4 linked regions of the Homo sapiens genome follow. The protein of the gene in region 2 purifies or fractionates together with the protein of the main gene of each other region. This does not show direct contact. Each region holds a gene or a part of one and is shown on either strand. Other genes may lie near its edges.

Region 1 (7,024 bases), on a different chromosome or scaffold from region 2:
ACAGCACTTTTCACAGTAAGGTAAATTGCTTTTATAATTATTGGATTGCCTCTCTGACTATGTTTGTTGAATAAATAAAAAAAGGTGGCCAGGTGCCGTGGCTCACACCTGTAATCCCAGCACTTTGGGAGGCCGAGGCGGGCGGATCACGAGGTCAGGAGTTTGAGACAAGCCTGACCAACATGGTGAAAACCCGTCTCTACTAAATATACAAAAATTAGCCAGGCATGGTGGTTCGTGCCTGTAGTCCTAGCTACTCAGGAGGCTGAGGCAGAAGAATCACTTGAACCCGGGAGGCAGAGGTTGCAGTGAGCCAAGATTGTGCCATTGCACTCCAGCCTGGGCGACAGTGTGAGCCTCCATCTCCAAAAAAAAAAAAAAGTGGCTTTATAACCTGCCTTCTTTTTCTTATTCCCAGTGCTCTTAAAGTTCCGTACAGATAAAGGAAGAGATCCCAGTTCTGATACATATGAGGAAGATTCTGAGTTGTTGCTCCAGATACGAAATGATGTGCTTGACTCACTGGGTATTAGTCCTGACCTGCTTCCTGAGGACTTTGTCAGGTTGGTGTCAGTATTTATCACTGTTTAGTCTGGACAGATAAAGTTTGTTTTCAGGATTTGCCTTAATTTGACAAGCTCTTTTATTAGAAACCCTTCAGAGAGCACCCTGCCACATTCTGCTCGCTCCTGTAGACTTCTGCCTCTCCACTAGAATAGCAATATATAAAAAATAAAGAGGGGACAGATTCTGATTTTTACAATAAGTATCTTATATTCACGTGGTTCAAAATTCAAGGCAATGTAAGATCTGTAAACATTATTCTCTACCTTTTTTCACTTTATGTGATCTTGTTATCTCTTGGGGACATCTCCAGATCAGTACATAGTTTGCTCCCTCTTTTCCACAGCTCCTTAGTATTCTAGAGTGTGAAGCGATGGAGTTTATTGAACCAGTTGCCTGCTCACTCAAGTTGTGTTCAGGCTTTTCTAACTGCGTAACACTGCAGTGTGTGACCTTGTGTCGTACGTGTGCAGGTACAACTGCAGGATAATTAGGAGGAAGGGAGTTGCTGGGTCAGAAGGTTGTAATTTATCATTTGGTCAGCATTGCCACCTTGCCTCCATTGGTATCCTATCAATTCATACCCCCAGCAGCAAAACCACCCATGTTCCCAGCATCCTCTCACTTGGACACTCCATGCTTTCACCTTACGTGACTACCTTTTTGCTCTCATAAACAGGCTTAGGATTTGATTGGAGAAGACCACATAGTGACTAGGTCACAATCTCTCTCTCTCTTTTTTTTTTTTGAGACAGAGTTTTGCTCTTGTTGCCCAGGCTGGAGTGCAATGGCACAATCTCAACTCACCGCAACTTCTGCCGCCTGGGTCCAAGCGATTCTCCTAACTCAGCCTTTTGAGTAGCTGGGATTACAGGTGCCTGCCACCACGCCCAGCTAATTTTTTTTGTATTTTTAGTAGAGATGGGGTTTTCCATGTTGGCCAGGCAGGTCTTGAACTCTTGACCTCAGGTGATCCGCCTACCTTGGCCTCCCAAAGTGCTGAGATTACAGGCATGAGCCACCACGCGCTCCATCCACATCTCCTTCCAAGCAGCTCTGGGATCATGTACACACCCTAATTCCCTTTCCATGTCTTGAGAGGCTTCCTAAACTCGGCTTTGCAGTGCCTCCAGCTTGTAGCAGTGATAATGATGGCTGCAGTTTACTGAGCAGCTGTTATGTACTAGGCATCAGGTAGTAAGTAGCCAACCCAGATCCCACCCCAGGTATCATTACAGTGCTTGCTCTAGTAGCAGCATGCTACCTTGGTTTCTTATCAACAGTAAGGTCTGCCAGAGTCCCTAGTCCTTTCTTTGTTGACTTCCTGCTGGGAACTTCAGGTGAGCAACAGCAAACCCCACTCCATTTAGGGCCAGCAGTGGTCTTTGAAGCACCTGTGGTGCCCTGACCCAAAAAGCCATGATTGTCCTGGTACAGTGGCTCACACCTATAATCCCAGCACTTTGGGAGGTTGAGGCAGGCAGATTGCTTTGAGCTTAGGAGTTTGAGGCCAACCTTGACAACATGGTGAAACCCTGTCTCTACAAAAAATAGAAAAATTAACTGGGCATCGATGACTGGTGCTTGTAGTCTCAGCTACTCTGGAGGCTGAGGCTAGAGCATCGCTTGAGCCCAGGAAAGCAGAGGTTGCAGTGAACCAAGATTGCACCACTGCATTCCAGCCTGGGTGACAGAGAGAGACCGTGTCTCAATACATATAGCGTAAGGCTGGGCGCGGTGGCTCACGCCTGTAATCCCAGCACTTTGGGAGGCCGAGACAGGCAGATCATGAGGTCAGGAGATTGAGACCATCGTGGCTAACATGGTGAAACCCCATCTCTACTAAAAATACAAAAAATTAGCCAGGTGTGGTGGTGGGTGCCTAAGTCCCAGCTACTCGGGAGGCTGAGGCAGGAGAATGGCGTGAACCCGGGAGGCAGAGGTTGCAGTGAGCTGAGATCACGCCACTGCACTCCAGCCTGGGCGACAGAGCGAGAGGGAGACTCCTTCTCAAAAAAAAAAAAAAAAAAAAAAAGGCAGCAATAGAGTGGCAGTGCCTGAGCACACGAGACTGAGACATGGAAAAGCGGTTTCCCCAAAGAGGGTGGGCAGGGAAGGAACCACTTTGGAGAGAAAACCAGCCAGCAGCTCGTTAGGCTGTGGCTTTCCTCTTCTAGGAAGCAGGGCCTTCAACTCTGCTGGCCGGTGATGCAGAGCCAGACCGTTCATCACTTTGAATGCCCAAGTAGTCACTTGGCTGCACACTCACGGCCCAGCACACAGCCCCAGGTATGCTCAGTGGCTGCCGCTTGCCACTGGCTGACTGGCTGGGATTATTGGAACTGAAGCCCTGCATGACCCAGTCCTTCTTCCTGCTGCGAAGCACAGCAGAGGAAACACTTGCTTCTCACAAACTGGTCATTCCTCCACCAAGAGATGAGTGCCCCAGTGAGTTACCATGAGATCCAAGCCTGTACAGTGTCATCAGCCGCTGACCTCACGGTGCTGATGTTACAAAGGCACCTTGTAAACTGCTGCCTATGTTTAGATGATGGCTTTTTTTTTTTTTGGAGACAGAGTCTCGCTCTGTCCCCCAGGCTGGAGTGCGATGGCATGATCTTGGCTCACTGCAAGTTCCGCCTCCCGGGTTCACGCCATTCTCCTGCCTCAGCCTCCCCAGTAGCTGGGATAACAGGCGCCCGCCACCACGCCCAGCTAATTTTTTTTGTATTTTTTAGTAGAGATGTGGTTTCGCTGTGTTAGCCAGGATGGTCTTGATCTCCTGACCTCATGATCCACCTGCCTCGGCCTCCCAAAGTGTTGGGATTACAAGTGTGAGCCACCACGCCCAGCCTCTTTTTTTTTTTTTTTTTAAGATAGGGTCTCTCTCTGTTGCCTAGGCTAGAGTGCAGTGGCACATCATAGCTCACTGCAGCATCAACCTCCTGGGCTCAGGCAACACTCTCATCTCGGCCTCTTGCGTAGCTGGGACTATAGGCGTGTACTACCAAGCCTGCCTAATTTTTTTTTTTTTTTTTTTTTTTTGTATTGACAGGGTCTCACTATGTTCACCAGGCTGTTTCCTATTTTTTAAAGTTATGAACCGCATAACAAGAGAGTATACAAAGCACATCTGCCTGAGTTAAATGATAATTAATACTTATTTATTTTTGTTGTAGAGACGGGGGTCTCACTCTGCTGCCCAGGCTGTTCTCAGACTCCTGGATTCAAGCCATCCTTCTGCCTTGGCTTTCCAAAACTTCTGGGATAGACAGGCGTCAGCCACTTGTATCTCTTTTAATTTGGAATAGCCCTTGGCAAACTGGCTTGCCACCTCTTTTTGTAAATAAAGTTTTATTGGCACACTTACTCATTTATATATTATCTGTGGCAGCTTTTGTGCCACAGCAGGGTTAAATAGTTATAACAAAGACCATATGGCCCATAAAGCTGAAAATATTTTATTATCTGGTTCTTTTGTTTGTTTGTTTGTTTTTGAGACAAAGTTTCACTTTGTCACCTAGGCTAGAGTGCAGTGGCATGATCTCGGCTCACTGCAACCTCCACCTCCCGGGTTCAAGTGAATCTCCTGCCTCAGCCTCCTGAGTAGCTGGGATTACGGGCATACGCCACCATGCCCAGCTATTTTTTTTTATTTTTTTATTTTTTTTATTTTTTTTTGAGATGGAGTCTTACTCTGTCACCCAAGCTAGAGTGCAATGGCCCGATCTTGGCTCACTGCAACCTCCGCCTCTGTGCTCTGTGGTTCAAGTGATTCTTCTGTCTCAACCTCCTGAGTAGCTGGGACTACAGGCGCGTGCCACCACGCCCGGCTAATTTTTGTATTTTTAGTAGAGATGGGGTTTCACCATATTGGCCAGACTGATCTCAAACTCCTGACCTCATGATCCACCCAGCTTGGCCTCCGAAAGTGCTGGGATTACAGGCATGAGCCACTGCACCTGGCCTGTTATCTGGTTCCTTTTTTTTTTTTTTTTTTTTTTTTTTTTTGAATCAGAGTCTTGCTGTGTCACCCAGGCTGGAGTGCAGTGGCGTGATCTCGGCTTATTGCAACCTCTGCCTCCCAGCTTTAAGTGATTCTTTTGCCTCAGCCTCTGGAGTAGCTGGGACTATAGGCACGTGCCACCACGCCCAGCTAATTTCTGTATTTTTAGTAGAGACGGGGTTTCACCATATTGGCCAGACTGAACTATTCCTCCAATACGGCCAAAATGAGATTCTACCAGCAATGGGAGGAGTTTTTTTAATTATTATTATTGGGAGTCTCTCTCTCACCCAGGCTGGAGTGCAGTGGCACCATCTCGGCTCACTGCAACCTCCACCTCCTGGGTTCATGCAATTCTTCCACCTCAGCCTCCCGAGTATCTGGCATTACAGCTGCCCGCCACCACACCCGGCTAACTTTTGTATTTTAGTAGAGACGGGGTTTCACTATGTAGGTCAAGCTGGTCTTGAACTCCTGACCTCAAATGATCCACCCGCCTTGGCCTCCCAAAGTGCTGGGATTACAGATGTGAGCCACCGCACCCAGCCCTAGTTCTCCATGTATTTTAGAGCTCTGTAGTGGACCTTGATAAGCAGGAAGATGTTACCCCTGGATGAACAAAATGGGAATGTGCTGGTCCTGGCCAGGGCGTAAGGAGCCGGAGGTGCCTTTGGACACAGCTCTTGGGATTGGAATGGATACAGCCTTTTGGGAGGGCATTTTGGCAATACATATGAAAAACTAGCATTGCTATATTTAGAAATTTGTCTTAAGGAATTATTTCGACGCCTGTGTCTTTGTCAAGATGTATGATTACAGTGTTGAACAGCTTAAATGTCCCTCAATAGGTTATAGAACAGAAGAGTAATAGTTGATAATATTTGGGTTTAAAATTATACCTATTTATTTATTTATTTATTTTTTGAGACAGTCTTGCCCTGTCACCAGGCTGGAGTGTAGTTGTGCGATCTCAGCTCACTGCAACCTATGCCTCCCAGGTTCAAGCGATTCTCCTGCCTCAACCTCCTGAGTAGCTGGGACTACAGGCTCACCCCACCACACCAAGCTAATTTTTGTATTTTTAGTAGAAACGGGGTTTCACCATGTGGGCCAGGATGATCTCGATCTCTTGACTTTGTGATCCGCCCACCTCGACCTCCCAAAGTGCTGGGATTACAGGCATCAGCCACTGAGCCCGCCCTAATTATACCCGTTTAGATTGTGCACTTTTAAAAATGTCTAGAAGGGGCTGGGCGCAGTGGCTCACACCTGTAATCCCAGCGCTTTGGGAGGCCGAGGCGGGCGGATCACGAGGTCAAGAGATTGAGACCATCCTGGCCAACATGGTGAAACCCCGTCTCTACTAAAAATTCAGAGTAGCCGGGCGTGGTGGCGGGTGCCTGTAGTCTCAGCTACTCAGGAGGCTGAGGCAGGAAAATGACATGAATCCGGGAGGCGGAGCTTGCAGTAAGCCAAGATCGCGCCACTGCACTCCAGCCTGGGTGACAGAGCGAGACTCCGTCTCAAAAAAAGTCTAGAAGGATGTGCACCACACTGGGGAGATTGGAGGTAGTTCTGTAGGGAGGCTTTCCCTTTCACTTGTCTGTGTTCCAGTTTGCTTGGTGAGCACACAGCATTGTGTTCAGGAGTAGGAGCTGGCAGAGCACACTTCCTTTGGGGAAGTGGTGGAATTAAGTGATTTGCTTACTAGGATGGGTAACTTGGAGGGGCAGGTGACTGTGTCATCTAAAATTTGTCCTCTAGATGCCCCATCCTGGCCCAGAAGGGCTGGTTTCTATGTGGGTTGTGAAGACTTTTTCTGCCCTCATACTTTAATTTCACGCCTCAAATTTCCCTTGCTTCCTACATGTTAACACAGGCCTGCTCCCTGACATTTGTCTGGGAATAGCATATAGAACCCACTGGCCATTATGGGTAAGAAGAGAATTGCGAGAATGTGACCAGGGCACTGAAACATCTGATATCTCTAGGACAGATATAGGAAGCACAGATATAGTCTTTCCTTTAACTTATAAAGGTAAAAATAAAAGTATTGTGAAAGAATTTCTGCTTGCCAAAGTTCAAAGGTCTTTTCCAACCACTTATGAATCCCTTGCTCAGATTTCATTTTCACGCCTAGATGCCAGCATTAACACTGCTATCTGAATCGGGCCCTCCTGCTAGAAGTTGTTTTTATTCAGGAGAGCCTACTACTGAATTTCTCCAGATGTCATGGTCACAGTTCTGTTCCCAGTGCTCCATTTTCCTTGTCTTCCTCTCTTTTAGGTACTGCTTCTCCGAGATGGCCCCAGTGTGTGCGGTGGTTGGAGGGATTTTGGCACAGGAAATTGTGAAGGTAAAACATCACTGTGGAGCAGAAAATTGTTAACCATGACTTTGTATATGTGCTGACAGAGAGAATGGAAACTGTCTTAGACAGCTGCCTGCTTTCTC
Region 2 (7,024 bases):
TTTCGTGGAGCCCCATTGCTGAGCTTACAACGTCACTCTGCTCTCAGCTCCCACGGCCTAACCATGACCATCCTCCCTGCAGGCATTGGTTCCTGTCACCATTGAAGTAGAGGTGCCCTTTGACCTTCACCGTTACGTTATTGGGCAGAAAGGAAGTGGGATCCGCAAGATGATGGATGAGTTTGAGGTAGACCCCTTTCCCGGGAGGCCATGTCACAGGAGTGGCCTGTCGCATCCTCTCCCGAGTGCCAGTGTCCTTTCTCAACTTCCTGTTGACTCTGCCTCCTCCTGCTCGGACTGGGCACTGACTTCCCTTCACGGCGGGTGGCCTTCCCTCTCACCACTTCTGGGTCCCAGGGCCAATGGACTCTTTCCTGTTCTCTGGGGTCCTGAACGTCAAGTCAGCCCCCTCTTCACGTAGGTGAACATACATGTCCCGGCACCTGAGCTGCAGTCTGACATCATCGCCATCACGGGCCTCGCTGCAAATTTGGACCGGGCCAAGGCTGGACTGCTGGAGCGTGTGAAGGAGCTACAGGCCGAGCAGGAGGACCGGGTGAGCAGGAGGTGGCCGGGGCACTGCCCAGAGCCATGGTGCTCAGCTTTGGGCACATGTCAGAATCTAGGGAAGTTCTTCAGGATCCCAGCATCCCAGCGACATCTGGCTGGAGGTGAGATGCAGGCAGTGCCAGGACGCAGTCAGCATCCAGGGGTCTTGCTGTGGAACTAGCCAAGAGCATGGCACCTTTCTCTTTTTCATAAAAAAGTGACAAAGTTGGACTTCCGTGTAAATTTGCAGTTTCTCTCAAAACCAAATCAGAGTGGTACCTCAGACCTACAAGAAAGGTCAAGGTTGCGAGAGGCCCCCAAGCATGTGCTATGCAGTGAGGACGAGCATCGGGGACCCCCACTAACCTCTAGCACAGGGTGGTCAAAGGGCGAATGACTTCCTGGTAAGCAGGGATGAAACCCCCCCAACCTCTGGCAAGGCTGACGTTTGAAGGATTGTATGAGCGGAGCGCTGCAGACGCCCAGCCTCTGGCAGGGCTGACATTTGGAGGATTGTGTGAGCAGAGTGCTGCAGACAGGAGCAGGGGTTCTGGAACTTGGAGCAGACTGTGCTGGGGTGCTGGTTTGCTAAGGGGGTTGGCTTTCCACTCCTCCCGTGAGCACGTCGAGTCTGGTGAATGGGGTGGAGCTCGTGAACCTCACATGGTGTCAGTGTACCCCTGCGTGGACTCTGGGTTGTCTCCTGCAGCCAGGTCATACCTGTAGCCTTTGGCCATGGGTGTTCAGGGGCTGTGGCTGCCCCCTCTTCTTGGTCTGCATCTGCCCCAGTCCTAAAAAGATCCAGAGCATTTCTGTGCGTATCCATCAGATCCCTGTTTGACAAATGAGGAGAGCGGGGCCCCAAGCTCGTGACTCACTGCCTAGCTCTGTCAGTTCCTGAGCACGATCCTCGCAAGTGGTCCCAAGCCCTCTTTTGAAGGATTTATAGACCTCCTTGTGGAGCAGCCAAGTTCCCTGGTTCTCATTATTAGCAGATAATGGAAGGTGGCAGAGGTCGGACCAGAGAGATGGCGGACCATTCCGGACCACGGGTTACAGAACACTGCAGCATCTCCAGTGTCCTATGACCAGGGTGGAAGGGGAATGGAGTCACAGGGTGGATCAGCTCAATCTTTGCCTCATTCTTGCTCCTTTCATTTGTAGGCTTTAAGGAGTTTTAAGCTGAGTGTCACTGTAGACCCCAAATACCATCCCAAGATTATCGGGAGAAAGGGGGCAGTAATTACCCAAATCCGGTTGGAGCATGACGTGAACATCCAGTTTCCTGATAAGGACGATGGGAACCAGGTGAGAGCCTCGGTTGGAGCGTGTCGGGGGCAGAGGTGCTTGTTGACCTTTCCTGTGACTTGGGAGCAGTAACCAGATGTGCCTAGATGGGGGTTCGAGGGCCAAGTTGAGAGTGGCAAGTCTCTCAGGACCTAATTCTGGCTTGAGGTTTGGGCTGTGTCTCGGTACTTGCCAGATGGGTGAGGTCTCTGGCACTATGTATCATCTGGGGCCTGGAGCATTTTCTCCTGCGTCTCCTTCCAGAAAATGAGCAGGAGCTCCAGCTGGGTCCTTGATCAGTGGCGCCTCCAGGTGTAGCTCATTCACCTGTCACCCGGGCCTCTCTGAGGCTCCCAAGGGCTCTCATTCACCTGTCACCTGGGCCTCTTGGGGTCAGGTGGACATTTCTCTGCAGCCCCAGCTGCAAACACCGTTGTGCTTGCCAGATGGTCCTTAGTAAACTCTTGTTGTTACTTCCTCCAAATTGCAGTGCCACCCCCCTGCCACTGGCCCTCATGGCCTCCTGCTTCACTCAGAACAAAATGAAAGGCAGCCCCATCCCCTCTCTGGGCCCTGCCACCTGGCATGCAGGGCAGCCTCACCCAACACCCCCTCTTGCACACACTTCCCAGGCTTGGTCTTTCCTGGCTCTGGCATCCTGCTGGGGTGTCTGCTTCCTAGGCGTGTCCAGCACAGCTTTGCCCACAGTGGGAGACTAGCAAGCCTTGGTGGCCACAGTTGTGCTGGTTTCCAGAAACAGCAAACCCCCTGGCAGCAGAGCCCCTCCACGCCCCTCGCTCCCACTGTGGATGTGCCGCCCAGGGTTTTCCGCTGCTTCCCCTTCCCCTTCCCCTTCTTCCTCCCCAGCTTCTTGTTCCCTTTTGGATCTTTGAGTCACACACACACCAGCCAGGCCAGGAGGGCCCTCCTGCACCCTGCCTCCTCCAGCTCCCACGTCCTCTTCCCTCCCCACATACATTTTTTAATTTTTAGTCTTGATCTTGAGAGTTTAGTTCTTTTTTTTGAGAGAGATAGTCTTTGTCTTGTTGCCCCAGGTGGAGTGCAGTGGCGCGATCTCGGCTCACTGTAACCTCTGCCTCCCGGGTTGAAGTGATTCTCGTGCCTCAACCTCCCAAGTAGCTGGGACTACAGCTGTGAGCCACCGCTCCCAGCCCAAGAGTTTAGCTCTTTTAAGCCCCTCACCCTTATTGCCTTTTATTTCCCTCTACTATTCTATATAATTATCAATCTTAAAAGTCATTATAGGTGAGTCACAGTGGCTCACGCCTGTAATCCCAACACTTTTGGAGGCCGAGGCGGGTGGATCCCCTGAGGTCAGGAGTTCAAGGCCAACCTGACCAACATGGCGAAAGCCTGTCTCTACTAAAAATATGAAAATTAGCCAGGCGTGGTCGCGTGCACCTGTAATCCCAGCTACTCGGGAGACTGAGACGTGAGAATCGCTTGAACGCAGGAGGCGGAGGCTGCAGTGAGCTGAGATCATGCCATTGCACTCCAGCCTGGGCGACAGAGTGAGACTCTGTCTTTAAAAAAAAAAAAAAAAAGTCATTGTTTAGCAATTAGACTATTCCATCTAATACACCATGAGCCAAGTGGGGTGGAGCAGTCATTTCTTCACAGGCAGCTTTTTCCTGTGAGCTGTGCTTCCGATCTTGAGGTTCTGTACCTGGCAGCACGCGGGTGGTGCCTGAGGCTGTCAGCTCTGCTGGGCCACGGTGGGTGGGGCTGCTGCCTCCCACTCTGGCATTTTGCTTCAATCTGGACAGAAGCTTCTTGGGCTGCTGCTCTGTTGTCTCTAGGTTAGGTCTTTCTGCTCATTTCCTTTCCAGGCATTTGTCCCTGTCCTCTAGTCCTGTTGCGTGATGATGGTTCCGTGTTGTGATTTGTCCCTGTCCTCTAGTCCTGTTGCGTGATGGTTGTGATTTGTCCCCGTCCTCTAGTCCTGTTGCATGGTGGTTTTTGTGTTGTGGACATGTTGTTTTCGCCGATTGTGGGCTACAGGTGTTTTGTTACCACGTTTCCTTCTCTATGCCCTGAACTGTCTGCTTGGTCTGCTTGTCTGCTATCCCAAGTCTGGTATGGTGTCTCCTGTCCATTTGTGTGGCCCAAGGAAGGCCTGAGCAGGTGGGATCTCTGAGTGAGGGAGGGGCTCGCTGAGGAATGCCAGCCAGCCTCCAGCCTCCAGCACAAAGATGCCTCCAGACTGTGGCCCACGTGGGCAAAGAAGCAGGAAGCTGAGGGGCTTGGGGCTTTGTCTTTGCCCCGCTGTCCTTGAGTCCAGAATTCTTGCCTGTTAGTGTCTCTCCTTTGTCTTTGAGGACAAATGTCCTTTTTCGTTCTGTAATTCACTGTCTTTTGGGTAGAGTTTGGGAAGAGATGGAAGCTGAGTGGACATAGGTTTTTTGTGGGGTGTTTTTTTTTTGTTTTTTTTTTTTTGAGATGGAGTTTTGCTCTGTTGCCCAGGCTGGAGTGCAGTGGCGCAATCTCGGCTCACAGCAACCTCCGCCTCCCGGGTTCAAGCAATTCTCGTGCCTCAGCCCCGGGAGTAGCTGGGATTACAGGCGTGCACCACCACGCCCGGCTAATATTGTATTTTTAGTAGAGGCGGGGTTTCTCCATGTTGGTCAGGCTGGTCACGAATTCCGGACCTCAGGTGATCCGCCTGCCTCGGCCTCCCAAAGTGCTGGGATTACAGGCGTGAGCCACCGTGCCCGGCCCTGAGTGGACATTGTTAACCTCTTGTTTTAAATCAGCCGTGACGTTGCTTTCCATCTTCTCTCCTGAGCTGTTTTCCTCAGCAGTGGGGGCCGGCTCTTGCCCCTGACGGGAATCCCAGTAAGGCATCCCCTTTTCTGACTACATTCTCCTTTTTTAGCCCCAGGACCAAATTACCATCACAGGGTACGAAAAGAACACAGAAGCTGCCAGGGATGCTATACTGAGAATTGTGGGTGAACTTGAGCAGATGGTTTCTGAGGACGTCCCGCTGGACCACCGCGTTCACGCCCGCATCATTGGTGCCCGCGGCAAAGCCATTCGCAAAATCATGGACGAATTCAAGGTGAGCCGGCTGGAAGCACAGTGGGTGAGAATCCTCTCTCACCGGGGGCACCTGGCTGGCCAGAAGAAAGAGCAGGGCATGGCCTTCCCCTCAAGATGATGAGGCCACAACCCCAGGGCTGGCAGTGGAACTGTCCTCATGGACACCACGGGTCAGTGCAGGCGACGGCCTGTGTGAGGCTGCACTGCCACGGTGGCCATTAGGAGGGCATCTCCTTGACAGCTGCCTGGCGAGCTCGTCCTCTGTGGGTGGGAATTTCATGCAAGAGCGCACAGTACGTGCTGCGGCCCTCTGTCTGCTGGGAACAAGGTGCTCCTGAGATACACCTAACTTGGTGTGGTGATGAGGCTGACTGACTTCAGAACAACTCTGAAACCAGATTTTAAAACGTTTGCTAACTCAGAAAATGCTTCACTAGAAATTGACACATAATTTTAACCCTTTTCCTCGCTTGGAGTCCCCTCATCTGACGTTGTACACCCCTTCCAGGTGGACATTCGCTTCCCACAGAGCGGAGCCCCAGACCCCAACTGCGTCACTGTGACGGGGCTCCCAGAGAATGTGGAGGAAGCCATCGACCACATCCTCAATCTGGAGGAGGAATACGTGAGTCTCTGTGGGCCTTGGAGCCCTGAGGCGCCCTGGCACGTCCACCGGCCTGAGGCCCAGCCAGGAGCTTCAGGGGACAAGGTGGCACTTGTGTTTCCAGAGGCAGGCGAGGTGCAGGGGTGAGCAGGCGGGCGGGATGCTGGGGGTGCTGGGCAGACTGACCCTGTCTTCCTGTCTTCTGCCTGCAGCTAGCTGACGTGGTGGACAGTGAGGCGCTGCAGGTATACATGAAACCCCCAGCACACGAAGAGGCCAAGGCACCTTCCAGAGGCTTTGTGGTGCGGGACGCACCCTGGACCGCCAGCAGCAGTGAGAAGGTCAGATGCGGGCTTCTGCCCTCCTGGGTCCCAGGGAGGGTGGGCGGGCAGGCGGGCTTGGTGTCCTGAGGGTGGCAACTGCGTCGGAAGCTGCTTGCGAGTTGGGGAGCATCCCCTCCTGAAGCCGTGTCCTCTCTCTGCACAGGCTCCTGACATGAGCAGCTCTGAGGAATTTCCCAGCTTTGGGGCTCAGGTGGCTCCCAAGACCCTCCCTTGGGGCCCCAAACGATAATGATCAAAAAGAACAGAACCCTCTCCAGCCTGCTGACCCAAACCCAACCACACAATGGTTTGTCTCAATCTGACCCAGCGGCTGGACCCTCCGTAAATTGTTGACGCTCTTCCCCCTTCCCGAGGTCCCGCAGGGAGCCTAGCGCCTGGCTGTGTGTGCGGCCGCTCCTCCAGGCCTGGCCGTGCCCGCTCAGGACCTGCTCCACTGTTTAACACTAAACCAAGGTCATGAGCATTCGTGCTAAGATAACAGACTCCAGCTCCTGGTCCACCCGGCATGTCAGTCAGCACTCTGGCCTTCATCACGAGAGCTCCGCAGCCGTGGCTAGGATTCCACTTCCTGTGTCATGACCTCAGGAAATAAACGTCCTTGACTTTATAAAAGCCAAACGTTTGCCCTCTTCCTTTCCCACCTCCCTCCTGCCAGTTTCCCTTGGTCCAGACAGTCCTGTTTGTGGAGTGCAATCAGCCTCCTCCAGCTGCCAGAGCGCCTCAGCACAGGTGTCAGGGTGCAAGGAAGACCTGGCAATGGACAGCAGGAGGCAGGTTCCTGGAGCTGGGGGGTGACCTGAGAGGCAGAGGGTGACGGGTTCTCAGGCAGTCCTGATTTTACCTGCCGTGGGGTCTGAAAGCACCAAGGGTCCCTGCCCCTACCTCCACTGCCAGACCCTCAGCCTGAGGTCTGGTGAGTGGAGCCTGGAGGCAAGGTGGTAGGCACCATCTGGGTCCCCTGTGGCCGTCACAGTGTCTGCTGTGATTGAGATGCGCACAGGTTGGGGGAGGTAGGGCCTTACGCTTGTCCTCAGTGGGGGCAGTTTGCCTTAGATGACAGCTGGGCTCTTCTTCACACCACCTGCAGCCCCTCCCTGCCCCTGCCCTAGCTGCTGTGTGTTCAGTTGCCTTCTTTCTACCTCAGCCGGCGTGGAGTGGTCTCTGTGCAGTTAGTGCC
Region 3 (7,024 bases), on a different chromosome or scaffold from region 2:
AAGTTGCCTCAAACCACCTCCCTCCAAATTGGAAATTTTCTGTAGACTTTTTTTTTTTTTTTGAGACAGAGTTTTGCTGTATCCCCCAGGCTGGAGGGCAGTGGCGGGATCTCAGCTTACTGCAACCTCTGCTGGACTCAAACAGTTCTCGTGTCTCAGCGTTCTGAGTAGCCCGGACTACACGTATGTGTCACTATGACTGGCTAATTTCGTAGAGATAGGGTTTCACTATGTTGCCCAGGCTGGTCTCTCAGCCTCCCAAAGTGCTGGGATTACAGACATGAGCCACTGTGCCCGGCTCTCTGTAGACATTTCTAACAAATAGTATAATAATTCAGCCTCTTCATCACTTAATAATTGAGAGTTCACCAGTTGTAAAAATATGCCATTTTATGTATAAGCAGTTCTGATGGTTCTCTTTTTTTGCAGTGAGCCTAAATCCACCTTCTTCTAATTTCTGCCCTGTAGTCCTCATGTTTCTACAGCAGTGTTGTCCAATAGAAATATAATGGGAGTGGGAAGTGTGAGCCACACGTGTAATTAAAAATATTCTAGGCTGGGTGCAGTGGCTCATGTTTGTAATCCTAGTGCTTTGGGAGACTGAGGTAGGAGGATTGCTTGAGGCCAGGAGTTCAAGACCAGCCTGGGCAACATAGCAAGACCTTGTCTCTAAAAAGTTTTTAAAAAAATTAACTGTGTGTGGTGGCGTGTACCTGTAGTACTAGCTAGTCAGGAGGCTGAGGTGGGAGGATTGCTTGAGCCCAGGAGTTCAAGGCTACATTGAGCTATGATCACACCACTGTACTCCAGCCTGGGCAACACAGTGAGACACTGTCTCTTAATTTTTTTTTAATAGCCATATTTTAAAAGAAAAATTGGTGAAATTAATTTTAACATTTTATTTAACCCAGTATATTCAAAATAGTATCACTTCAACATGTAATTAATGTAAAATATCTCGTTAGTAATTAAATAGTTTTTTTCTTTATACTAAATCTTTGAAATCTTGTGGGTTTTTACACTTGAAAGTCCATCTCAATTTTAACTAGCCACATTTCACATGTTTAATAGGCACATGTGGCTAGTGGCTAATATATTGGACAGCACAGTTCTGGAACTTTAGGGAATAATTCTGTTTCTTTTCTTTCTTTCTTTTTTTTTTTTTTTTTTGAACAAGGGTCTTGGTCTGTCACCCAGGCTAGAGTGCAGTGGCATTATCACAGCTCACTGCAGCCTTGACCTTCCAGGCTGAAGTGATCCTCCCACTTCCGCCTCCCGAGTAGCTGGGACTGTAAGCACACATCACCATGCCTGCCTGATTTTTTGTATTTTTGTAGACAGGAGGTATTACCATGTTGTCCAGGCTGGTCTCCAACTCCTGGGCTCAGGCAGTCTGCCCACCTCGGCTTCCCAAAGTGCTTCAGCCACTATGCCTGGCCTCTTTTTTTCCTATAATGGCTAGTACAGTGCTTGGCGTGTAATAAGCGCTAATGAAATATTTCTTGAGTACTTGAATAAGTGAATAAATGCAAGTGCTAGAGAACTAATAATAAAAGGTAATTTTGTTTGGGAAGTAACTTGTTGAGATCTGTGGATTTGGAGTGCAGGTTTGAGTGACTTGAATTTGTATTAAAGACACTTATTTTTTCTTTGTAGCATTATGGATCCAAGCCTGTTGAGAGAAAGGGAGCTGTTCAAAAAACGAGCTCTTTCTACTCCTGTAGTAGAAAAACGTTCAGCATCTTCTGAGTCATCATCATCATCGTCAAAGAAGAAGAAAACAAAGGTAGAACATGGAGGATCGTCAGGCTCTAAACAAAATTCTGGTTAGTAAAATTGTTTAGGACTGTTTGGTTTTTATTCAGATTATTCAGGAGGAAACCGTTTAGTTATGGCTAGTTCATTTTTCAGTTCAGCACTCATGTTGATAGGCACTTTGTTGAATATAAAGGATGGGACAAGAGAATTTAAGCTCTTAGGATGTTAATAGTCTTGTGCTGTAGTTAAAATTTAGGTTATTACCTCTTTAAAAAAACTTTATTTAGGTTTAATTTACATACCATACAGTTCATTCATTTTAAGTTTACAGTTCAAAGATGTTTGGTAAATTTACAGAATTTTGCAGCTGTTATTACAGTCCAATTTTAGAACATTTCCATCACCCCCAGCAGATCTGATGTGCCCATTTGCAGTGACTTTTCCCATCCCTGCCCCGGAAAACCAATAATCTGCTTTCTGGCTCTGTATATTTGCCTTTTCTGGATATTTCCTATAAATGAAATTGTACAGTAAGTGGTCTTTTGTGTGTTGTTTTTTTCACTTGGCATATTTTTGAGTTCCATCCATGTAGTATGCATCAGTACTTCATTCCATTTTTATTGGTAAAGCGTATTCCATAGTATGGATATATGTACCACAGTTTGTTTATCCATTCACCAATAAACGGTTATTTGGATTATTTTCACTTTTTGGCTGTTTTGAATAGTGTTGGTATGAATATTCATGTACAAGTCTTTGTGTAGACATATCTTTTTATCTCTTTTGGATAGAGACCTAGAAGTAGATTTCTGGGTCATATGTCAAATTTATATTTAACTTGTTAAGAAACTGCTAAAATAGCTGTACCATTTTATATTTCCTCCAGCAATGTATCAGGGTTCTAGTTTTTTCTCATCCTTGCTAACGCTTGAAATTCTGTTTTTTTTTTTTTAATCATAGCTATTTCTATAGTTGTGAAGTTCTATCATTGTGGCTTTAATACGCATTTCCTTAATGAGTAATGATGTTGAACATTGTTTCATGTGCTTATTGACCATGTGTATTCCTTGGTGAAATGTCTATTCAATTTTTTTTTGCCCATAAAAAAAACTGAGGTATATTTCCTCTCTCTATTGATTTAATAATTCTTCATATATTCTGGCTACCATTCTTTGATCTGGTATACATTTGCAAATATTTTCTCCAAGCAAGTGCTTGTCATTTTATCTTCTTAATAGTGTCTTTGTATGTACAAAAGTTTTTAATTTTGATGAAGTCCACCTTACCAGTTTTTTTCTTTTATCATTTGTATTCTTGGTGTCATATCTAAGAAATCTTTGCCTGACACAGGTCATGAAAATTTTTTTCTGTGTTTTCCTCTAAGAGTTTTGTAGTTTTAGCTCCTGCATTTAGGTTTGTAGTATATTTGAGTTGATTTTTGTGTATGGATTAGCATAAGAGTCAAAATTTATCTTTTTGCGTGTTCTTATGAAGTTGTCCCAGCATCATTTTTTGAAATGATGATCTTTCCCCTGTTGAATTATATTGCGCCCTTGTTGAATATTAGTAGACCATAAATCAAAGAGTTTATTTCTGGAGTCTTAGTTTGGTTCCATTGACTTCTGTGTTTATCTTTATGCCAGTATCATTTCTCTTGAGTGCTGTAGCATTGTAATTAAGGTTTGAGACTGAGAAATGTAAGTCCATCAACTTAGTTCTTTTTTATTTCAAGAATTGTTTTAGTTTTTCTGCATAAATTTTAGGGTCAATCTATCAACATTTGCAAAAAAGCCTGCTGGGATTTCCATAGGGATTGAATTGAATCTATAAATCAATTTGGGGAAGAACTGCCATCTTAACAATATTAGATCTTCCAGTCAATGAATAGATGGCTTTTTACAAATTTTTTGTAGAGACAGGATCTTGCTCTGTTGCCCAGGCTGGTCTCAAACTCCTGGCCTCAAGCAATCTTCCTACCTCAGCCTCCCAGAGTGTTGGGATTATAGGTGTGAGTCATTACACCCAGCGGTTATTTTATTCTGATTCAATCTCACTTATGAATGAAATTGTTTTCTTTGATTTTTTTTTTTAAATTGTTCATTGCTAGTATATAGAAACAAGAGTTTTTTTTAATACATTGATCTTGTATTCTGTAACCTGACTGAACTTGTTTTTTATTTCTCGTAGTTTTTTGTGTGGTTTCCCTAGGATTTTCTATGTCAAGATTATGTCATCTGTGAATAAGAACAGTTTTCTTTCTTTCTTTCCGGTGTGAACTTTTTAATTTTTATTTATCTTGCCTGTCTGGACTGGCTGTACATTGAATAGTAAAAGTAGCTACCTTTGCCTTGTTCCTGATCTTAGGGGCAAAGCATTCGGTTTTTCACTCTTACGCATGATATTACTGCAGGTTTTTGTACATGCCCTTTCCAGTTGAAGAAGTTCCTTTCTATTTCTAGTTTGTTGAGAGGTGGTTTTTTTTTTTTTGAGACGGAGTCTTGCTCTGTTGCCCAGGCTGGAGTGCAGTGGCGCAATCTCAGCTCAGTGCAAGCTCCACTTCCCGGGTTCATGCTGTTCTCCTGCCTCAGCCTCCCTAGTAGCTGGGACTACAGGCACCCATCGCCATGGCTGGCTAATTTTTTTGTCTTTTTAGTAGAGATGGGGTTACACTGTTAGCCAGGATGGTCTCGATCTCCTGACCTTGTGATCCACCCGCCTTGGCCTCCCAAAGTGCTGGGATTACAGGCGTGAGCCACCGCACCCAGCCTTTTGTTTGTTTTCTTTCGAGACAGCGTCTTACTCTGTTGCCCAGGCTGGAGTACGGGCATGATCATGGCTCACTGCTGGCGTGATCATGGCTCACTGCAGCCTCGAAACTCCCCAGCTCAAGCAAGCCTCAGTCTCCCGGGTAGCTGAGACTACAAGCACATGCCCACCACATTTGGCTAATTAAAACTTTTTTTTTTTTTTTTTGGTAGAGATGGGGTTTTACTTTGTTGCCCAGGTGGGTCTCAAACTCCCCGCTTCAAGGGATCCATCCCCCTTAGCCTCCCAAAGTGCTGGGATTATAGGCATAAGCTACTGCATCTGACTGAGAGTTTTTAGTCATAAATGGGTACTGGATGTTGTCTGATGCTTTTTATGTATCTAATGAGATGAGCATGTTCTCACTCTTTAGTCTATTAATATGATATATTAACATTAATTGATATTTAGATGTTCAAACAACCTTGCATTTATTCCTGAAATAAATCCTACTTGGTTATGGTGTATAATCATTTTTATTTGTTGTGGTACTCAATTTGCTGGTATTTCGGTCAGGATTTTTGCATCTCTATTCCTGAGGGACTTGATGTGTATGTAGTTTCGTTTTTCTCTGGTGCCTCTCAGGGTAATTCTGGCCTCCTTAAACGATTTGTGAAGTGCTCCCTTTTCACCTATTTTCTGAAAGAGTTTGTGAAACTTTGTTATTTTTTAAAATGTTTGATAGAATTCACTGGTGAAGCCATTTGGGCTTCAGCTTTCCTTTGTGGAAAGCTCTTTGTAAGAATTTTTTCTTTTCAGTTTACTCAGATTTTCTATTTCTTTTTGAGTTACTTTTGGTACTTTGTGGCTTTTTAGAAGTTTATTCATTCATCATTTACATTGTCTGAGGTTTTTCAAAGTACTCCCTTATAATCCTTTTGATATCTATAAAGTCAGTAGTGATATCCCCTCTCATTTTTTTTGAGACGGAGTCTTGCTCTGTCTCTCAGGCCCCCCAGAGTAGCCGGGATTACAGGTGTGTGCCACCACGCTCAGCTAATTTTTGTATTTTTAGTAGAGACAGGGTTTTGCCATGTTGGTCAGGCTAGTCTTGAGCTCCTGACCTCAGGTGATCTGCCTGCCTCAGCTTCCCAAAGTGCTGGGATTACAGGCCTGAGCCACCTCACCCAGTGTCCTCTTTCATTTCTGATTTTAGGAATTTGTCTTTTCTCCCTTTTTTCTTGATGAGTCTAGCTAAAGGTTCATCAATTTTGTTGATTTTTTTCAAAGAACCAACCTTTGGTTTCATTGGCTTTTCTGTTTTGGTTTTTGTTTGTTTGTTTGTTTGTTTTTATTTCCACATCAGTATTTATTATTTCCTTCCTTCTGCTTGCTTTGGGTTTAGTTTACTCTTACATTATTATCTTTTAAACAATGTCAGTGGAACTTAATTCACAGCTGAAATTATTTAGCTACTTCAAATTGTAGCAATAATAATTTTTATTGATGTTAATTTTTTACACATCCTACAAGCTGTTTTATAACTGATTTGGAAGCAAAGCTTTTTTAAAAATCAAAGTAGGCCTGTCATTCTTATAATATATATTAGGTTTATATGTCGTTCCAATGAAATGTACATAGAATTAACTCATCATAAACAAAAATGTAAAAACTGTTTTAAACATTAACATAGCCACTCTCAGGCTTAAGCCACTTGAGCCTTTGACCTGCTCAAGAATGTCTTTGCATTTTGTAGTTTAGGCTACAGGTATTGGGTAGCGAATTTCATCTTCCCCACAAACAGGTCCCATTCGACAGCAGGAAGAGCCCTTGTAGGGTTTTACTTCTCTTTGGTTGGCCAGGGTTTTCCCTAACAGTCAGGGTAGGATAAACTGTGTTGTGGTAACAATCCCAAAAATCTCAGTTTCTTAAAACAACAGAAGCTTGTTTCTCCTTCATACTACATGTTTATCATGGATTGGTAGAAGTCTTAGCTAGTTATAGTCACTCAAGGACCCAGGCTGGCAGAGCAGCTGGAAGCTCAAATGTTTGTGAGTTCTGTGCTAGCAGGAAAACTAACTCTGGAAGAGCTTGCACTAGCAGTTAAGTGCTGTGGCCTGAAGGTGACACATGTCACATCCTCTCACAGCTCATTGGCCAGAGTTAGTCACAAGTCACTCATTGGCCAAAGTTATGTTCCCAGCCATAGGGGGCTCTGAAGTGAATGCTTTCCTTAATGAAGAGAGCTGGAAATATTGGGTGTAACAACTAAAGGCTACCATGCCACTCTAGTTCAGGCCACGGTCATTGGATTGCTAGGTTAGCTGTTGACCAGGTCTCCTGGTTTAGCTGCTTTAGTGTTCATTCTTCATACAGCTGTGATTTTTCTCATTAGATCATGTTGCTTTCAGCTCAAGCTGATTGTTACTGTTTTTCAGATAAAGTCCATGTTTTACTGCAGCCTGCGTGCCTGCCTCATCTGGCCTCTAATTATCTCTTAGGTGTGGTATCATACTGTTCT
Region 4 (7,024 bases), on a different chromosome or scaffold from region 2:
TTTTAAATTAGGAGAAAAGAATCTAAAGACCATTATGAGCTACAACCAAGCTCAAATTCGCCAGATAATTTGACGTTAAAATGCTGACACAGTGGAAGCAGATAACATGATGGCAGACACCTCACTGAAATGTTGAAGCCTGGGAAAGCAAATAGGTTTCCTCTCTCAATGCCAACTCTGATTGGCAGTGGCTGCCCAGAGTCCTATGTTGAGAAGAATTAGGAAGCAGATTGCCTGAGCCAAGCAGGGGAACGTGCCATGACTGGTTAGTCATGGCTGCCATGGATGCAAGAGAGGAAGGCGGGTGGTCCACATGCTAGGCTTGTGCCACCATCTATGCCCAGGACTCTGGGGGGTGGGGGAGTAGGCCTAGGATGATCTTCCCCATTCAGATTATTTATTTATTTATTTATTTGTTTGTTTTGAGACAGTCTTATCCTGTCACCCAGGCTGGAGTGCAGTGGATCTCTGCTGACTGCAACCTCCACCTCCCAGATTCAAGCGATTCTCCTGCTTCAGCCTCCCGAGTAGCTGGGATTACAGGCACCCGCCACCACACCTGGCTAATTTTTATATTTTTAGTAGAGACGGGGTTTCACCATGTTGGCCAGGCTGGTCTCAAACTCCTGACCTCAGGTGATCTGCCCACCTCGGCCTCCCAAAGTGTTGGGATTACAGGCGTGAGCCACCGTGCCTGGCTTCAGATTTTATTTATTTATTTTTTTGAGACAGAGTTTCACAGTTATTGCCCAGGTTAGAGTGCAGTGGCGTGATCTCGGCTCACTGCAACTTCCGCATCTTGGGTTCAAGTGATTCTCCTGCCTCAGCCTCCCGAGTAGCTGGGATTACCGGCATCTGCCACCACGCCCGGCTAATTTTTTGTATTTTTAGTAGAGATGGGGTTTCACCTTGTTGGCCAGGCTAGTCTTGAACTCCTGACCTCAGGTGATCCACCTGCCTTGGCCTCCTAAAGTTTTGGGATTACAGGCGGGAGCCACTGCGCCCAGCTCAGATTATTTTTAAAACAGTGAAAAGAGAATTCTGGAGCTAAAGGAAGTGTTAGCAACTACCTCACGATCTGCCAGCTCCCTGGCAGGAGGTATAAATGCTGAGTTCAGTGCCATGGGAAGCCCATTCACGCTGCCACAATGTAGATGGCACCACTGGGAGTGGGTTGCCTCGTAGCTGACAGGATACCTCCCCTCCGAAAAGGCACTCCAGCATCGGCGCAGCCCCTGCTGCCCAAGCAGGAAATAGCTCAGAAAGAAAAACAGGTGCGGGAAATTTAGGAGGCACTGCCAGGCAAGTCTCTTCCTGCCCAGGGTAGCTAGGTGCTAGCCCTGAGCCTGGACATCTTTACTGTGCCTCCCAGAGTGAGGAGCTGGAGACAAATGAATAGGGAGTGTGATGTCTCTGGCCAAGAGCCGTGATTTGTTCCATGCTTTGTTGGTTTGTCTAGGTGCGATACATGTCCTCGACGGATGCCAAAGTGGAACAGATGTTTCAGATACTGTTGGACCCAGAAGAGAAGGGCACTGAGAAAAAGCAAAAGGTATAGGCCCTGGGCTGAGTCAGTGAGTGAGCTCCCACTAGAGCCACCCATCCATAGGCCCCCGAAGCCACTGCTGCCTTGCTCTGCCGCTCCTCCAATCGTGCAGCTGGGCTCACGGGGCCTGGATGGGAGCTCTGAGGGTCTGGGGCTTTAGCGTGAACCAAGGAAAGAGAACCAGTGTTCACAGAGTACCTTGTTGGCCACGCCCTGTGCCAGGAACTGGGTGTACAGAGGTAACTGAGGCACTGTCCCAGCCCCTCAGGCTCTGCTGGGGACTCATTTGCTCTAACCATCAATCCCGAGAGAAGGCTCTTCCCTCTATTTACAGAGGAAGCTAAACTTCAAAGAGGTTATTTTTTGGCCGTGGTCACTCAACTGTGAAGTGGAAGCAGAGAGGTCCAGGGCTCGGGGCCCCTGCTCACCAGTGCTGCATCCTATGCCGTGTGCAGTGTCAACATTATAATGTGCTTCCTTTGACGCAGGCTTCTCAGAACCTGGTGGTGCTGGCCAGGGAGGATGCTGGAGCGGAGAAGATCTTCCGGAGTAATGGGGTTCAGCTCTTGCAACGTTTACTGGACATGGGAGAGACTGACCTCATGCTGGCGGCTCTGCGTACGCTGGTTGGCATTTGCTCTGAGCATCAGTCACGGGTAGGTGGAGTGGAGAGGCTGGTTACAGCTTCAGTCCCTTTGTCTGTCTGTCCATCCATTCCTCCATCCACCCATCTGTCCATCCGCCCATCTGCCCGTCCATCCATCCATCCACTCTTCCACCCTCTACCCCTTACCTTATTCTAAAAAGAACTTAGGTAGGTTATGGTGCCTCACACCTGTAATCCCAGCACTTTGGGGGGCTGAGGCAGGTGGATCACTTGAGGTCAGGAGTTCAAGACCAGCCTGGCCAACAAGGCGAAACCCTGTCTCTACTAAAAATAAAAAAATTAGCCGGGCATGGTAGTGCACGCCTGTAATCCCAGCTACTCAGGAGGCTGAGGCACGAGACTTGCTTGAACCCAGGAGGTGGAGGTTGTGGTGAGCTGAGATCGCGCCACTGCACTCCAGCCTGGGTGACAGAGCGAGACTATCTCAGAAACAAAACAAAACAAAACAACAAAAAAAGAAAAGGCAGAGTACAAGGAGATACATGTAACAAGAGAGAAAAAATAAAAATGGCGTGAAAAAGACCAACATAAATTAGGATGAAGTGGGGTAGAAAGAGCAAAAACAGCCTTGGGGTACCCCAAGCACTTGCTTTGTAGGGGGCTTACAAGTGTGAGCCCCAGCTTTCCTGCAGCCAACTCACAAAAACACATTGGTCACTGACTCCTTCAATGTCCATATGGCACAAGCAAGCTCATGGCCCAGAATGTGCCTGGCCACCACAGCATCTACCATCGAGACAGTGACCGGACACGTAGGGCTTGATCCCGACATGATTCTCAGCATGGATGGTGGTGGCCCAGCATGGACAGTGCAGCAATAACAGTCCTGCTCCTGGGCCAGTGTGGTGAAGTCCATGCCCCCAGCTCTTACCTGAGCTGGCTTGCTCCAGGGGAGAGGGGACCAAAGACTAGGCCCTTGGTTGCTTTTAGAGGAGCCCACAATTCCTAGATAGGGGTGAAACTGTGAAATAGTCAATGAAATCTCTTTAGGCTAAGCTTGGGCTGCATTCTGGGTCTCCCAAGGCTAAGACTGTTAAAAGCATGTGCATTCTGTTCCCTCCTGCCTTCCGGTCCATTCCAGTTCACAGTCTTGGCCAAGGACACTTAGCTGCTAAGTGGAAGCAGTCAGGATTTGGGCTCAGTGGACCAAGCAGGCCTTCTAGGGTTCTCCAGCTTAGAAACAGGGTGGAGAGGGCCCGGCGCGGTGGCTCATGCCTGTAATCCCAGCACTTTGGAAGGCCGAGGCGGGCAGATCACGAGGTCAGGAGATTGAGACAATCCTGGCTAACACGGTGAAACCCCGTCTCTACTAAAAATACAAAAAATTAGCCGGGTGCGGTGGCGGGCGCCTGTAATCCCAGTTACTCAGGAGGCTGAGGCAGGGAAATGGCGTGAACCTGGGAGGTGGAGCTTGCAGTGAGCCCAGATCGCGCTACTGCACTCCAGCCTGGGCGACAGAGCAAGACTCCGTCTCAAAAAAAAAAAAAAAAAAGAAAAAAGAAAGAAACTGGGTGGAGAGGTCTCACGGGCCCATTCCGTGTACGTGACGTCCACATCCCCAGGGTGTGGAAAGAACCTCAGGGTTTAGACTGGGGAAGAACTAGACCATTAAGCCTGGTGGTCAGGTAGCTTCGTCTAGGTATAGGTCTTTTTCTTGGGGAGGCATGAGCTAAGGCAGCTGCTCCCAGGGCTGCAGTATACTATGTCTTCTCTGGCACCAAGGAGAGGTAGTAGGGCATTGCCGTGTAATGTCTCCTTTAGGAAATCTTTCTAACAAAATTATCCTGCCATTACCCTGGGTCATGCCATCCATTCTGTGTTGTTTTCACCTGGAGCTGGGCCTTCCACCCAATTCTCTCCTTCTGGCCGTATCCTCTAACTCACAGTTAGGGATCTCTGTGGCTGCCCTTCAACAACTGGAAGCTTCCTTCTGTTTACCTCTCCCACCCCAGACAGTGGCAACCCTGAGCATACTGGGAACTCGGCGAGTAGTCTCCATCCTGGGCGTGGAAAGCCAGGCTGTGTCCCTGGCTGCCTGCCACCTGCTGCAGGTTATGTTTGATGCCCTCAAGGAAGGTGTCAAAAAAGGCTTCCGAGGCAAAGAAGGTGCCATCATTGTGGGTGAGTGGAAGCAGGTCTGGGGTCTTTTGGACGTTACTGTCATGGAAGGGATGGGGCTGAGCCAGCCAGGCCAGTTTTTTGGGGACCAGACTTGCAGCTGCAGGTTGTTTGGAATACGGTTTGGTGACATTATTTTACTCTAGATTCTCAGCAACCAAGGTGCCTCAGGACAAAGCTGGAGCTCAGTCTGGAGCCTGGGATGCGGATCCCCCCTTCCCTGTGTCTCCCTGGTTTGTTGGAGAAGTTGAAGGGTCAAACTGGGCTGGGCTGCTGTGGAGCCCACTGATGTCTTCTTGTTGTTGCCAGATCCTGCCCGGGAGCTGAAGGTCCTCATCAGTAACCTCTTAGATCTGCTGACAGAGGTGGGGGTCTCTGGCCAAGGCCGAGACAATGCCCTGACCCTCCTGATTAAAGCGGTGCCCCGGAAGTCTCTCAAGGACCCCAACAACAGCCTCACCCTCTGGGTCATCGACCAAGGTAGGTGATATAGTTCACAAAAACTTGCTTCAGCAGCTGAAGTTTGTTTATTCTTAGGAGTAATAAGAAAAGTTGTGAGTGGGGCCAGGCATGGTGGATGACACACTTTGAGAGGCAGGGGGTCACTTGAAGCCGGGAGTTTGAGATCAGCCTGGGCAACATAGCGAGACCCTGTCTCTATGAAAAATTAAAAAAAATTAGCTGGGCATGGTGGTGTGCATCGGCAGTCCTAGCTACTCCAGAGGCTGAGGTGGGAGAATTACTTAACCCTGGGAAGTCAAGTCTTCAGTGAGCTGTGATTGTACCACTGCACTACAGACTGGGCAACAGAGGGAGACTGTCTCAAAAAAAAAAAAAAAAAAAAGAAAGAAAAGTTGTGATTATCTCCAGCCACGTGTCTGCACTGAAGTGCGTCCTGTGGCCCAGGAGGATGCTGGAGCTGAGAAGATCTTCCAGAGCAATGGGATTCAGCTCTTACAACACCTTCTAGACACAAGAGCTACCCTTAGGGGGCTCAAAGTTAGACTCTTCTATCATATGCGTGTGCACATACATGCACATTGAGCGGGCCTGCAAGCAGGTTAGCAGAGAGGCTGGATTAGCTTTCTGTATTTTTTTTTTTTTGAGACAGAGTCTCACTCTGTCGCCCAGGCTGGAGTGCAGTGGCGCGATCTCAGCTCACTGCAGCCTCCGTTTCCCGGGTTCAAGCAAATCTCCTGCTTTAGCCTCCCGAGTAGCTGGGATTATAGGCACGCATCAGTATGCCCGGCTAATTCTTGTAGTTGTAGTAGAGATAGAATCTCACCATGTTGGCCAGGCTGGTCTCGAACTCCTGACCTCAAACAATGCACCCACCTTGGTCTCCCAAAGTGTTGGGATTACCGTCATGAGCCATTGTGCCCTGTTTTTTTTTTTTTTTTTTTTTTTTTGTTTGAGTGAGCATGTATTACTTCTATACTCAGAGGAAAAAATAACGGTAGATATATCAATTCATCTCTCTTTTCCCCTAAAAGATAAATAAGAGCTGGGCGTGGTGCCTCACGCCTATAATCCCAGCACTTTGGGAGGCCGAGGTGGGCAGACCACAAGATCAGGAGTTTGAGACCAGCCTGGCCGACATGGTGAAACCCCGTCTCTACTAAAAGATACAAAAAATTAGCCAGGCATGCTGGCATGCACCTGTAATCCCAGCTATTCTGGAGGCTGAGGCAGGAGAATCACTTGAACTCAGGAGGCGGAGGCTGCAGTGAGCCGAGATCGCGCCATTGCTCTCCAGCCTGGGCAACAGGGCGACTCTGTCTTAAAAAAAAAAAAGATAAATAAGAAAAGCTTTGCAAAGGCCTTGCATGAGCAGGGCCTTTCACAATGGTCCTATGAGGTGTGGATATCGTGTTCACAGTGGTCCCACGAGGTGTGGGTATCGTGTTCACAGTGGTCCCACGAGGTGTGTCTATTGTGTTCACAGTGGTCCTACGAGGTGTGGGTATCGTGTTCACAATGGTCCTATGAGGTGTGGATATTCTTTTCCCCTTAGTTTTACAGATGAGGAACCTCAAAAGCTCCAGAGCGTTTGGCCCCAGGGGCAGGGCTGGCATGCAGGCCTCACTTCTGAGGTCCTTCCCGATCCTACAGCCGCCTCCCTTAGGTAGCAGATCAGCTAAGCAGATTCTCCGGGCTGCCCTGGACACAGTTGTCAGAACTCTGTAGCCTTCTTGTCTTGCTTTTCTCCACATCTCCTAGGAAGCCTGTTTCTTTTACTTGTAGGGGTTGGAACTAGTGTTCTACTGTCTAAGCGGGGTGTCTTTACAGGTCTGAAAAAGATTTTGGAAGTGGGGGGCTCTCTACAGGACCCTCCTGGGGAGCTCGCAGTGACCGCAAACAGCCGCATGAGCGCCTCTATTCTCCTCAGCAAGCTCTTTGATGACCTCAAGTGTGATGCGGAGAGGGAGAATTTCCACAGACTTTGTGAAAACTACATCAAGTAAGGAAGTCTGTTTCACCTCCCGTTGCCAGGGATTCTAGCGAAAAAGTTCTGACTCCTTGAGGAGGGGCAGAAATGAAAGGTTTCCAGCAGAAACAGTAATCTTGGGGAGGACTAGTTGGAGGCTGAACAAAGGGAAAGTGGCCCCAAGGCCCACTTCCTGCTCCAAAGTGGCCTCCGCAGGGAGGTTCTTTCTCAAGTCAATGTTCCAATAATGCAACAAACGCCATCA

The links.
Region 1: the proteins of HDLBP (region 2) and SAE1 purify together in Homo sapiens (affinity purification with mass spectrometry, with the first as the bait; 2 studies listed by BioGRID). This does not show direct contact.
Region 3: the proteins of HDLBP (region 2) and GTF2E2 purify together in Homo sapiens (affinity purification with mass spectrometry; 3 studies listed by BioGRID and IntAct, with this or other methods). This does not show direct contact.
Region 4: the proteins of HDLBP (region 2) and UNC45A purify together in Homo sapiens (affinity purification with mass spectrometry; 2 studies listed by BioGRID, with this or other methods). This does not show direct contact.

The regions. Positions count from the first base shown.
Region 1 is NC_000019.10:47,196,815-47,203,838, forward strand, and holds part of SAE1 (SUMO-activating enzyme subunit 1), read left to right. Parts: intron 1-418; coding exon 419-563; intron 564-6,856; coding exon 6,857-6,926; intron 6,927-7,024. UniProt on the Homo sapiens protein: The heterodimer acts as an E1 ligase for SUMO1, SUMO2, SUMO3, and probably SUMO4. It mediates ATP-dependent activation of SUMO proteins followed by formation of a thioester bond between a SUMO protein and a conserved active site cysteine residue on UBA2/SAE2.
Region 2 is NC_000002.12:241,228,653-241,235,676, reverse strand, and holds part of HDLBP (vigilin), read left to right. Parts: intron 1-82; coding exon 83-187; intron 188-421; coding exon 422-556; intron 557-1,713; coding exon 1,714-1,857; intron 1,858-4,732; coding exon 4,733-4,918; intron 4,919-5,407; coding exon 5,408-5,524; intron 5,525-5,715; coding exon 5,716-5,844; intron 5,845-5,989; coding exon 5,990-6,076; 3' UTR 6,077-7,024. UniProt on the Homo sapiens protein: Appears to play a role in cell sterol metabolism. It may function to protect cells from over-accumulation of cholesterol.
Region 3 is NC_000008.11:30,648,235-30,655,258, reverse strand, and holds part of GTF2E2 (transcription initiation factor IIE subunit beta), read left to right. Parts: intron 1-74; exon of another isoform or gene 75-183; intron 184-1,277; exon of another isoform or gene 1,278-1,556; intron 1,557-1,656; 5' UTR 1,657-1,660; coding exon 1,661-1,826; intron 1,827-7,024. UniProt on the Homo sapiens protein: Recruits TFIIH to the initiation complex and stimulates the RNA polymerase II C-terminal domain kinase and DNA-dependent ATPase activities of TFIIH. Both TFIIH and TFIIE are required for promoter clearance by RNA polymerase.
Region 4 is NC_000015.10:90,938,272-90,945,295, forward strand, and holds part of UNC45A (protein unc-45 homolog A), read left to right. Parts: intron 1-1,459; coding exon 1,460-1,552; intron 1,553-2,034; coding exon 2,035-2,202; intron 2,203-4,165; coding exon 4,166-4,334; intron 4,335-4,640; coding exon 4,641-4,811; intron 4,812-6,620; coding exon 6,621-6,792; intron 6,793-7,024.